2 separate regions of the Homo sapiens genome follow, and region 1 is linked to region 2. Evidence: fine-mapped expression QTL. A gene starts in region 2. The other region holds a variant in brackets. All regions are shown on one strand. Distances are between the middles of the regions. Region 1 overlaps NPLOC4 (NPL4 homolog, ubiquitin recognition factor). Region 2 holds the start of NPLOC4 (NPL4 homolog, ubiquitin recognition factor).

Region 1 (5,369 bases), 76 kb after region 2:
GTGAGCTGAGATCGTGCCACTGTACTCCAGCCTGGGCGACAGAGCAAGACTCTGTCTCAAAAAAAAAAAAAAGATGTGGTCTTGCCATGTTGCCCAGGCTGGTCTCAAACTCCTAGGCTCAAGTGATCTTCCTGCCTTGGTTCCCAAAGTGCTGAGATTACAGCTGTGAGCCACTGCACCTGACCTTTTTTTTTTCCCCCCTCCTTTTTTTTTTGAGACAGGTTCTCACTCTGTCACCCAGGCTGAAGTGCAGTGGCATTTGAGGTCAGTCTCACCTTGACCTCCCCAGGCTCAAACAATCCTCCCGCCTCAGCCTCCTGAGCAGCTGGGACTACAAGCATGTGCCACCATCCCTGGCTGATTTTTTAAATTTGTTGTAGAGATGAGGTCTCACTATGTTGCCCAGGCTGGTCTTGAACTCTTGGGCCCAAGCGATCCTCCCGCCTCAGTGCTGAGATTGCAGTGGTAAGCCACCATGTCCAGCCAACTCTTTAATAATAGGCAGTTCTGACTGGTGTAAGTTCTGACTGGTATCTCACTGTGGTTTTAATTTGCATCTCTGATGATTAGTGATGTTGGGCATTTTTTCATGGGTTTTTTGTTTGTTTGTTTTGAGACAAAGTCTTGTTCTGTTGCCCAGGCTGGAGTGCAGTAGTGTGATCTCAGCTCACTGCAGCCTCCACCTCCCGGGTTCAAGCCATTGTCCAGCCTCTGCCTCCTAAGTAGCTGGAATTACAGGTGGCTGCCACCACACCCAGCTAATTTTTTTAGTTTTAGTAGAGACAGGGTTTCTCCATGTTGGCCAGGCTGGTCTCAAACTCCTGACCTCAAGTGATCCACCCACCTCGGCTTCCCAAAGTGCTGGGATTATAGGTGTGAGCCACCGCGCCCGGCCCTCATGGGTTGTTTTGTTTTGTTTTGAGACGGAATCTCACCCTGTCACCCAGGCTGCAGTGCAATCTCATGATCTCCACTTACTGCAACCTCCACGTCCTGGGTTCAAGTGATACTCCTGCCTCAGCCTCCCGAGTAGCTGGGACTACAGGCGTGCACCCACGCCTGGCTAATTTTTATATTTTTAGTAGAGATGGGGTTTCACCATGTTGGTCAGGCTGGTCTGGAACTCCTGACCTCAGGTGATCCACCTGCCTCGGTCTCCCAAAGTGCTGGGATTACAGACGTGTATACACAAGACACAAAGATCAGCTCAGGATGGGTCATAGGCCTAATGGTAAAAGGTAAAACTATGAAGCAGGCTGGGCATGATGTCTCATAGCTATAATCCTAACACTCTAGGAGGCCAAAGCTGGAGGACACTGTAGCCCAGAAGTGTGAGACCAGCCCACACAGCATAGTGAAGCCCCGTCTGTACAAAAAAACAATATTAAAAAAAAAAGAATTAGCTGGGCATGGTGAGTGGTCCACGCCTATAATCCCAGCTTCTGGGGAGGCTGAAATGGGAGGATCCCATGAGTCAGGAGGTCGAGGTCACAGTGAGCCATGATTATACCACTCCAGCCTGAATGACAGAGCAATACCCTGTCTTAAAAAAATAAAAACTGTAAAACAGTTATTAAGTTGAATCTCTTCAGGGCCTTGGGGTACGCAAAGATTCTTTTAGGCAGGATGCAGGACCTTGGGGTAGAACACAGAAAAACACTGGCATAAAAATAGGTAAATTGATAAATAAATTTATCTAAACAAAACACTTGTGCTCATCACAGGGCACTGTTAGAAACATGAAAAGGCACCAATGGGGGACGCAGTATTAGCAGTACATACACACAACATGACTTCTATCTGAAACTTAAAAATAACTCTGCCTGTTGTTAATCAAACAGAAAGCAGAAGAAGAAGCTGGGCGGAGGGTGAAACGTTTCACAAAAGGAAATGCAGGTCGGGCATGGTAGCTCACGCCTGTAATCCCAGCACTTTGGGAGGCCGAGGCGGTGGATCATTTGAGGTCAGGAGTTCGAGACAGCCAGGCCAACATGGTGAAAACCCATCTCTACTAAAAATAAAAAAAATTAGCCAGGTGTGGTGGCACGTGCCTGTAATCCTAGCTACTTGGGAGGCTGAGGTAGGAGAATCGCTTGAACCCAGGAGGCAGAGGTTGCAGCGAGCCGAGATTGCGCCATTGCACTCCAGCCTCGGCAACAACAAAAAAAAGGAGATGCAGGAACAGTCACTATCATTAGTCATCAGGGAAATGCAAATTAAAACA[T/A]GAGAAGCCGTTACACATTCATCAGTGTGGCTGAAATGAAAAAAACGCGACAATGTCAAGTGTGAGTGAAGATGTGAAGCAGCTGGGACTCTCGTACCTTGCGAGTGGGAGGCAAAACCGTGCCACCCTCGCGAGAACTGTGTCTCAGGGTCTTAGAAAGTTCAGCACACAATTCATTACCCTGTGGGCCGGCAGATTCATTCCTAGGTAGGTTTTTTGTTGTTGTTGTTTGTTTGTTTGTTTGTTTTGAGATCTCGGCTTACTGCAACCTCGGTTCACTGCAACCTCCGCCTCCCAGGTTCACGCCATTCTCCTTCCTCAGCCTTCCTAGTAGCTGGGATTACAGGTGCGCACCACCACCCCCAGGTAATTTTTGCATTTTTAGTAGAGACGGGGTTTCACCATGTTAGCCAGGATGGTCTCCATCTCTTGAATTTGTGATCTGCCCACCTCAGCCTCCCAAAGTGCTGGGATTACAGGCATGAGCCACCGCGCCCGGCCTGTTGTTTGTTTTTGAGATGGAGTCTCGCTGTGTCGCCCAGGCTGGAGTGAAGAGGCAGGGTCTCGGCTCACTGCAGGCTTCCCCTCCCGGGTTCATGGGATTCTCCTTCCTCAGCCTCCTGAGTAGCCGGAACGGCAGGTGTCTACCACCACGCCTGGCTAATTATTTTTAGTAGAGACCGGGTTTCGCCATGTTGGCCAGGCTGGTCTCAAACTCCTGACTTCAAGTGATCCACCCGCCTCGGCCTCCCAAAGTGCTGGGATTACAGGCGTGACCCACTGCACCCAGCCTCACTCTTTGTTTTTATCCAAGAGAAATAAAAACACAGGTCCACAAAGAAATTGTAGAAGAATGATCCTGGCAACTTTGTTCATATTAGCTCAAAACTGGAGGCTGGGCATGGTGGCTCATACCTATAATCCCAGCACTTTGGGAGGCCAAGGTGGGTGGATCACCTGAGGTCAGGAGTTCGAGACCAGCCTGGCCAACATGGTGAAACCCTAGTTCTACCAAAAAATAGATAAAATTAGCCAGGCATTGTGGTTCATGCCTGTAATCCCAGCTACTTGGGAGGCTGAGGCAGGAAAACCGCTTGAACCCGGGAGGTGGAGGTTGCAGTGAGCCGAGATCGTGCCACTGCACTCCAGCCTGGGTGACAGAGCAAGACCCTACCTCAGAAAAAAAAAAAAAAAAAAAAAGCTGGAAACAACCCAAATGCACATCCCCCGGGGAGTTACGTTATTCACAAGGAGAAGCACCCTCTGCAACAAAAAGGAACCAGCAAGCACAGGCTCCCTGTTACTCCCTGTGGTGCAGGAGGCATTTTTCTGAGGGCATTAAGCACTTCAAAGTGTGCCTGTGGTGGGAGTGCTGTGTGGGCAGGACCAGCACTGGGTGGGATGTTGGGGGCGGGGAGCTCTCAGCTGCCTGCCCCTGCCCCCATGCCCACACTCTGGCAGTCTCTGGTGGGCCAGAAATGATGAGTGCTCATTTCTCTTCCACCCTGCAGGCACAGTTGGCGGGCAGCTCCCAGGTCTCCATGAGTACGGCGCCGTCGGGGGCTCCACACACACGGCCACTGCAGCCATGTGGGCCTGTCAGCACTGCACGTTCATGAACCAGCCAGGCACAGGCCACTGCGAGATGTGCAGCCTCCCCAGGACCTAGGGCGCCTGCCCTCTGCTGGCTAGGACCGGGCCCAGCCCAGCCCTTCCTGAAGCCAGAAGCGTTGCTGAGTGTGTTCCCTGTAACTGCCCCATAGTGGGCAGCCCTGGAGGAACAAGGGGCTGGCTGTCCTGGGCTCCCTGACCCACTGAAGCTTCTCAGCACGTTCCTCCCTGGAGAGCGGGCGCCACGGCTGGTATTCTGCAGGCTGAATGCAGTCTCCAGACTGGAAACGCAGAGCGGCTCCTCACGCCTAATCCTGTTGACAAGTCCCCCGCCGTGTTGGAAAGACCTCTCGCCTCTACGTGGCACCTGGAATTGGGGCGCACAGGGAGGGGCCGATGCTGCCACCACCCAGCCTTCTCTTTATTTTCAGTGCTTTTTGTTTGGCCTCCCTGCCCCCATGTTTTTCTGGCTGGGAGCTCTTGGTTACCCCCTTGTCTGACTGCTTGGTGGCAGGCACCCTGCCTGTGAGGGCCACTTTCCTCTTCTAGTAGCTGTTGTCTGGTGGGGACGCAGTGGCCCTGGACACGGCTCCCCTCTGCAGGTCTGCAGGTCGGTTTGCTGCCTGCCCTCCTCCTCTCACCCGATGTCCAGGTGGGATTTTAAAGTCTGCATTGGTTATAATAACAGTTATCAGTAATTCCTGCCCAGAAGACTTTTATTTATTTTTTTTTAAGATAAAAACTGCACAAAAGGGGAGTGAGAGAGACTAGTTTCCACATCCTTCCCTCCTTTAGTGAAGCCCCCGAGGTTGTGTCCAGGGTGATGAGTGTGGACGGGGGCACCAGTCAGTTCTCCCTTGAAGTAAACCTCAGTGCCTGAGACTTTTCTACCAAGCCACACAGCTGCAGCAACTGCAGATACTGCGGGCTGAGCAGGAGCAGTGGTGGCGCCTGCCCTGAGGCTGCCCTGCGATGGCCTGGGTGGGAGAGCTGGGTCACCGGTGCCGATGCTCTGGCCCTCCCCAATACGCTGCTTCGTCCCACTGCACCGCCTGGCTGAGGGCGTTAGGGGCTGTGCCTCTTGTGAGGGCCATTTGGGACCTCCCTGGGGCACTGCACAATTGATAGTGTACCAATAGAGGGAGACTGGGCGATCTGGAACAGCACGTGGTGGGGTCCTGCTTGTGTGCTCTGCGTTCCTCTGTGGCGTGGCCAGGCCGGGGCATGGCTCTTACCCGGGGAGTGGTGGGCATCTCGATGCTTCTTTGCCTTAATGATGGCCACATCTGGGCTGCTCTGCACCCACGGGAGAGGCTGGCCCAGCTGCAGACTGCTTAGGGACTTCTGTGTCCATCCTGGGGGGTAAGCCCACGTGACCCACATTCTTGGCACTATGAACAGAGAACATTTGCCTGTTGGCTTCTGAAGTGGTCAGGGCCATGGCTGACACCTCCAGGTCCGCCTGGCATGGGACACCAAGTGGAAGGCCCAAGCAGCTCATCTGCTCTTGGGACCAGGGGCCAGTTGGGTTGGG
Region 2 (5,369 bases):
TCTACTAAAGATATAAAAATTAGCCGGGCGTGGTAGCGCACGCTTGTAATCTCAGCTACTCAGGAGGCTGAGGCAGGAGAATCGCTTGAACCCACGAGGCGGAGGTTGCAGTGAGCTGGGATCGCGCCATTGCACTCCAACCTGGGCGACAGAGGGAGATCCGACTCAAAAAAAAAAAAAAAAAAAAAGAAAAGTAATTCCAAACCACCACCCAGTCTGTGAGAGATTTTGTTATGTTATATTTTCTTATAACTGAGATAATTATTACAGTTAAAGAGATCGGACTTAACTGAACCCATCTTGCTTCTAACCTCCAAGCTGTCCTTGTTCATTCCTGGGTGTAGGCTGAAATAACTTCGGGAGGCGCTTAGTTTATAGTTTAGCTTTGAAACAAAGATGGTAACAGCCCTTTGCAAAACAAACTCCCTTCCTACCTGGGGACAAGACTGCCTTTTCAGGACTAACAAATTAGCCATAAGATTAGAAATTATGGTTTAGGAGTCATGTAGCTGGAGGCTACAAGATTCTAAACCTCCCAAATTGCTTCTCAGGATAACATCACTATTAAAAAACAGATCAGCGCTTGAGATATTTTGCAGACTCTGCACTCCATGGATCAGCTGGCACCACCCAGATTGATAAACTGGCTCATATCTTGTGGCCCCCACCCAGGAACCGACTCAGCACAAGAGGACAGTTTTGACTCCCTATCATTTCACCTCTGACCCAACCAATCAACACTCCCTACTTTCTGACCCCATACCCACCAAATTATCCTTAAAACCGCGGATCCCCAGCCGGGCACGGTGGCTCACGTCTATAGTCCCAGCACTTTGGGGAGGCCCAGGTGGGCGGATCACCTGAGGTCAGGAGTTCAAGACCAGCCTGACCAACATGGAGAAACTCCGTCTCTACGAAAAATACAAAATTAGCCAGGCATGGTAGTGTGCGCCTGTAGTCCCAGCTACCCGGGAGGCTGAGGCAGGAGAATCACTGGAACCCAGGAGGTGAAGGTTGCAGTGAGCCGAGATCGCGCCACTGCACTCCAGTGTGGGTGACAGAGTGAGATTCGGACTCAAAAACAAAAAAAAACAAAAAACAAAAAACTCTGATCCCTGAATTCTCAAGGACACTAATTTTTTTTGAGTAGTAATAAAACCTCAGTAACCTGTACAAGCTGGCTCTGTGTGAATTAAACTCTTTATTGCAATTCCCCTGTCTTGATAAAGTCTAGGCAGTGGGCAGGGACAATATGTTGGGTAGTTACAGTGGCACCCTGAGCAAACTAATACAATTACTAACATAATTTAATCAATTAATGTAATTTAACATAGTTTAAAAAAACTGTCACAGTAATTGTGATGTTGTGAAATATGTATACATTTAGTCTTCCGGTTTCCTGGTATCCAACTCCAAAAATCCTTAGAATCTGTGAAGTGACGTCTTTTTTTTTTTTTTTTGAGATGAAGTCTCACTCTGTCGCCCAGACTGGAGTGCAGTGGCACCAACTCAGTTCATTCTAACCTCCGCCTCTTCGCTTCAAGAGATTCTCCGGCCTCAGACTCCCGAGTAGCTGGGATTACAGGTGCCCGCCACCACGCCCAGTTAATTTTTGTATTTTTAGTAGAGACGGGGTTTCACCACGTTGGTCAGGCTGGTCTTGAACTCCTGACCTCAGGTGATCCACCTGCCTCGGCCTCCCAAAGTGCTGGGATTACAGGCGTGAGCCACCGCGTATGGCCTAATTTTGTATTTTGAGTAGAGACGGGGTTTCACCATTTTGGCCAGGCTGGTCTCGAACTTTTGACCTCAGGTGATCCGTCCACCTTGGCTTCCCAAAATGCTGGGATTACAGGTATGAGCCACCGCGCCCGGCCTGAAATGCAGTTTAAACTCGTTTGTTTTTCTTATGTTAAATTTAAAAAATACTTAAAAAAAAAAACATGAAGGTGTGATCCTGCCTTCCTGAAATTGTTTCTCTACTTACCTGTGCATGGAGAGAAGTTTGGAATGCTGTTTCCCCAATTATAATACGCTATAATACGCAGCAGTAGTTATTTTTGGGTGAGACTTCGGATGCTCGTCTTTGCTTCCTTTTTGGACTTTCCTGTGCCGCTTGGGTTTCCGAGGACGAGCAGAAGTAATCTCAGACGCAACTTTCCAAAATCCCCTCCTCCAGTTGCAGGGATGGCGGGGGCGGGTCAGCGGCGCCGCCCTGCGCATGCGTCGAGCCGTTGGTGGGGCCGGAACCTGGTTTCCCGGCCTCGCGCCCGAGGGGAGCGTATTGAGCGAGGCACCGGGACGTCGGCGGCTGGCGGAGCCGGGCGGGCGAAGCTGGAGCGGCGGTGGCGGCGGCGTAGGGAGGCCGGGGCCGGGGCTGAGGCCGCGGCCGGGTCTGCGAGGCCCTTGGGGCGGCAGGCGGCGGCGGCCCGGGGCTCGAGCCCGGAGGCAGGAGCAGCCGCCATGGCCGAGAGCATCGTGAGTGCGGCGGCCGGGCGGGAGCGGGGACGCCGGGATGAGGCAGCAGATTTGCCGGCCTCGGCCTGTGGGGGAGGCGGGCCTGCCGGCGCCGCGACTCGGCCCCTTTCTCTTCTCTCGCCAGGGCTTTCTCTGTAGTGGCTGGGCCCCTCTCGGGGACTTTCACCCCCCTCGGCTGCTTCCCGTCCGTGTCCCTCCCCAGGGGACTTACGACCCCGGTTCCCCGCCCTGGGCAGGGAAAGGCCGAGCCTTTCTAAGCAGGGAGAATGGACTGTGGCGAAGAGAAACCGCCCTCCTTCCCCACCCGTTTCCCGGCTCCAGGAGACTTCCTGGTCTAATTCCAGGGACTCCCAGCCAGTCCTGCCCCTCTCAGAGCCAGGGACACCTCTTATCCTAATCTCCCTCTGATTCTCTCCTCCTGCTCTCCCGCTTCCCAGCAAGTGCCTTGTCATGAGTCACTAAGGAGAGCAGCTCTGCAGACGGGGACGTTACAGAGCTCCCTCCCCACCAGAAGACCTGGGAAAATGAAAACACAGTAACTTGCCGGCTTTGCTCCTTACTTGGAAGGACAACTTGACAATTCCTCTTTAAAAGGAATGTTGTAAATGATGTTGATTTCACTTTTTACCTGAAATTGAAATTGTCGGCCCGGCGCAGTGGCTCACGCCTGTGATGTCAGCACTTTGGGAGGCCGAGGCGGGTGGATCACCTGGGGTCAGGAGTTCGAGACCATCCTGGCCAACATGGCAAAATCTTGTCTCTACTAAAAATACAAAAAATTAGCCGGGCGTCATGGCGCACTGTAATCCCAGATACTTGGGAGGCTGAGGCAGGAGAATTGCTTGAACGCGGGAGGTGGAGGTTACAGTGAGCTGAGATCCCTCCATGGCACTCCAGCCTGGGCTATAGAGCGAGACTGCGTCTCAAAAAAAAAAAAAAAATTGTCACACACTCCTCCTTAACGTAAAAAATATCAGTGACAAATCAGAAAACCAGTCCCTCGTTAAGTTGTGAGAAGTTTCTTCCCAAAAGTAAATGTGATGGGAAAAAAACTAACTGACCATTGGACAGGAGCATTTTGGTTAATATTAAGGAAGATTTGGGATTTCTGGGGGAAGCTTAGCAGTATTGGGTGAAGAGTAATGTTCATACTGTAGCATTGTGACAGTCTCTGCAGTTTTGCCAGGTGTTGTCTAGAATAGGTCTCCAGGCCCGGCGCGGTGACTCACACCTGTAATCCCAGCACTTTGGGAAGCCCAGGTGGGTGGATCACCTGAGGTCAGGAGTTCAAGACCAGCCTGGACAACATAGTGAGCCTAGGTGGCGTCACTGGACTCCACCCTGGGCGACAGAATGAGACTGTCTCACACACACAAACAAATGGGTCTCCAGGAGAACCTAGCACTTATTTGCAAGGCTGTTCTCTGGTGGTTCCATCATCTCTCCAGTCAGGGGCCCTCTTGGTGCCTCCATGTTTCCCAACCTGGAGATGAGTGGAATGAATATATGGCCCAGGAGAAACTTAGGAAACGTCGACTCCTTTTTTTTTTTTTTTTTTAACCTTATTTTATTTTTTTGAGATGGAGTCTCACTCTGTCGCCCAGGCTGGAGTTCAGTGGTGCGATCTCTGCTTACTGCAACCTCCGCCTCTCGGGTTCAAGAAATTCTCCTGCCTCAGCCGAGTAGCTGGGGTTGCAGGTGCTCGCCAACACGCATGGCTGATGTCTTTTTTATTTTTAGTGGTGATGGGGTTTCACCGTGTTGGCCAGGTTGATCTCGAACTTCTGACCTCGTGATCCGCCCGCCTTGGCATACCAAAATGCTGGGATTACAGGCATAAGCCACCGCGCCTGGCCTTTAAATCTTTTTAATTAAAAACATTTTTTTATAGAGATGAGGTCTCTACTATGTTGTACAGGCTGGTCTCTGAGCTCGAGGGATCCTCCTACCTTGGGGTCCCAAAATTGCTAGGATTACAGTCCTGAGCTACCATGCCCGGCCAAGAAACCTTTGACTCCTTTGAAAAATAAAATGTGGCCATGCAGTGGCTCACGCCTGTAATCCCAGCACTTTGGGAGGCCGAGGTGGGCGGATCACGAGGTCAGGAGTTCAAGACTGGCCTGACCAACATGGTGAAACCCTGTCTCTACTAAAAATAAAAAATTAGCCGGGTGTGGTGGCATGCACCTGTTATCCCAGCTACTCTGGAGGTTGAGGGAGGGGAATCGCTCAAACCCGGGAGGTGGAGGTTGCAGTGAGCCCAGATTGCGCCACTGCACTCCAGCCTGGGCGACAGAGCAAGACTGTCTCAAAAAAAAAAAAAAAAGTGTTAATCATTGGTGACTTTGCCTAGAAATAGGTTAGGAATTAGCACTGAAACCTTCTTTCAAACTACCTTTGTACTTTTAACTGAGTTAAAATAACCATTGACAAGTGAAAAGTGTTTCAGACAAGGCCATTTTTTTTTTCCCACTAGTGTATAAGGCTAGGCTCTCATTGACAGCATTGGATCTCGTTGAATGTCTCAGATTGTGAGGAATTAAAACACTCTTCTTTTGAAATTGATTTAAAAAGTTATTTTGAATTTAAGAAAGAGATCTTTTGAAAAGTTTCTGGGCTGGGCATGGTGGCTCACACCTGTAATCCCAGCACTTTGAGAGGCCGAGGCAGGTGAATAATGAGGTCAGGAGTTGAGACCAGCCTGGCCGACATGGTGAAACCACGTCTTTACTAAAAATACAAAAATTAGGGCGTGGTGGCTCACGTTTGTAATCCTAGCACTTTGGAAGGCCGAGGCAGGTGGATTGCCTGAGCTCAGGAGTTTGAGACCAGCCTGGGCAACACGGTGAAACCCCACGTCTACTAAAAAAAAAAAATACAAAAAATTAACC

The links.
Region 1: its variant is fine-mapped to the expression of NPLOC4 in whole blood (INTERVAL, PIP 0.98).

What each region holds. Positions count from the first base shown.
Region 1 is chr17:81,557,783-81,563,151 of GRCh38, reverse strand. NPLOC4 (NPL4 homolog, ubiquitin recognition factor) reads left to right here. Exons shown (of 17, transcript NM_017921.4): 17 at 3,736-5,369. The coding sequence ends at 3,893. Among named protein-coding and RNA genes, the nearest start is that of FAAP100, 8.1 kb to the right of the region's middle. RefSeq lists enhancers at 2,064-2,163, 3,440-3,939, 3,940-4,441. The variant T/A (reference allele first, on the strand shown) is at 2,225.
Region 2 is chr17:81,634,025-81,639,393 of GRCh38, reverse strand. It overlaps NPLOC4 (NPL4 homolog, ubiquitin recognition factor), which reads left to right and starts at 2,282. Exons shown (of 17, transcript NM_017921.4): 1 at 2,282-2,478. The coding sequence starts at 2,464. TSPAN10 (tetraspanin 10) reads right to left here and starts at 2,198. Exons shown (of 4, transcript NM_001290212.2): 1 at 1,988-2,198. RefSeq lists a silencer at 2,343-2,552.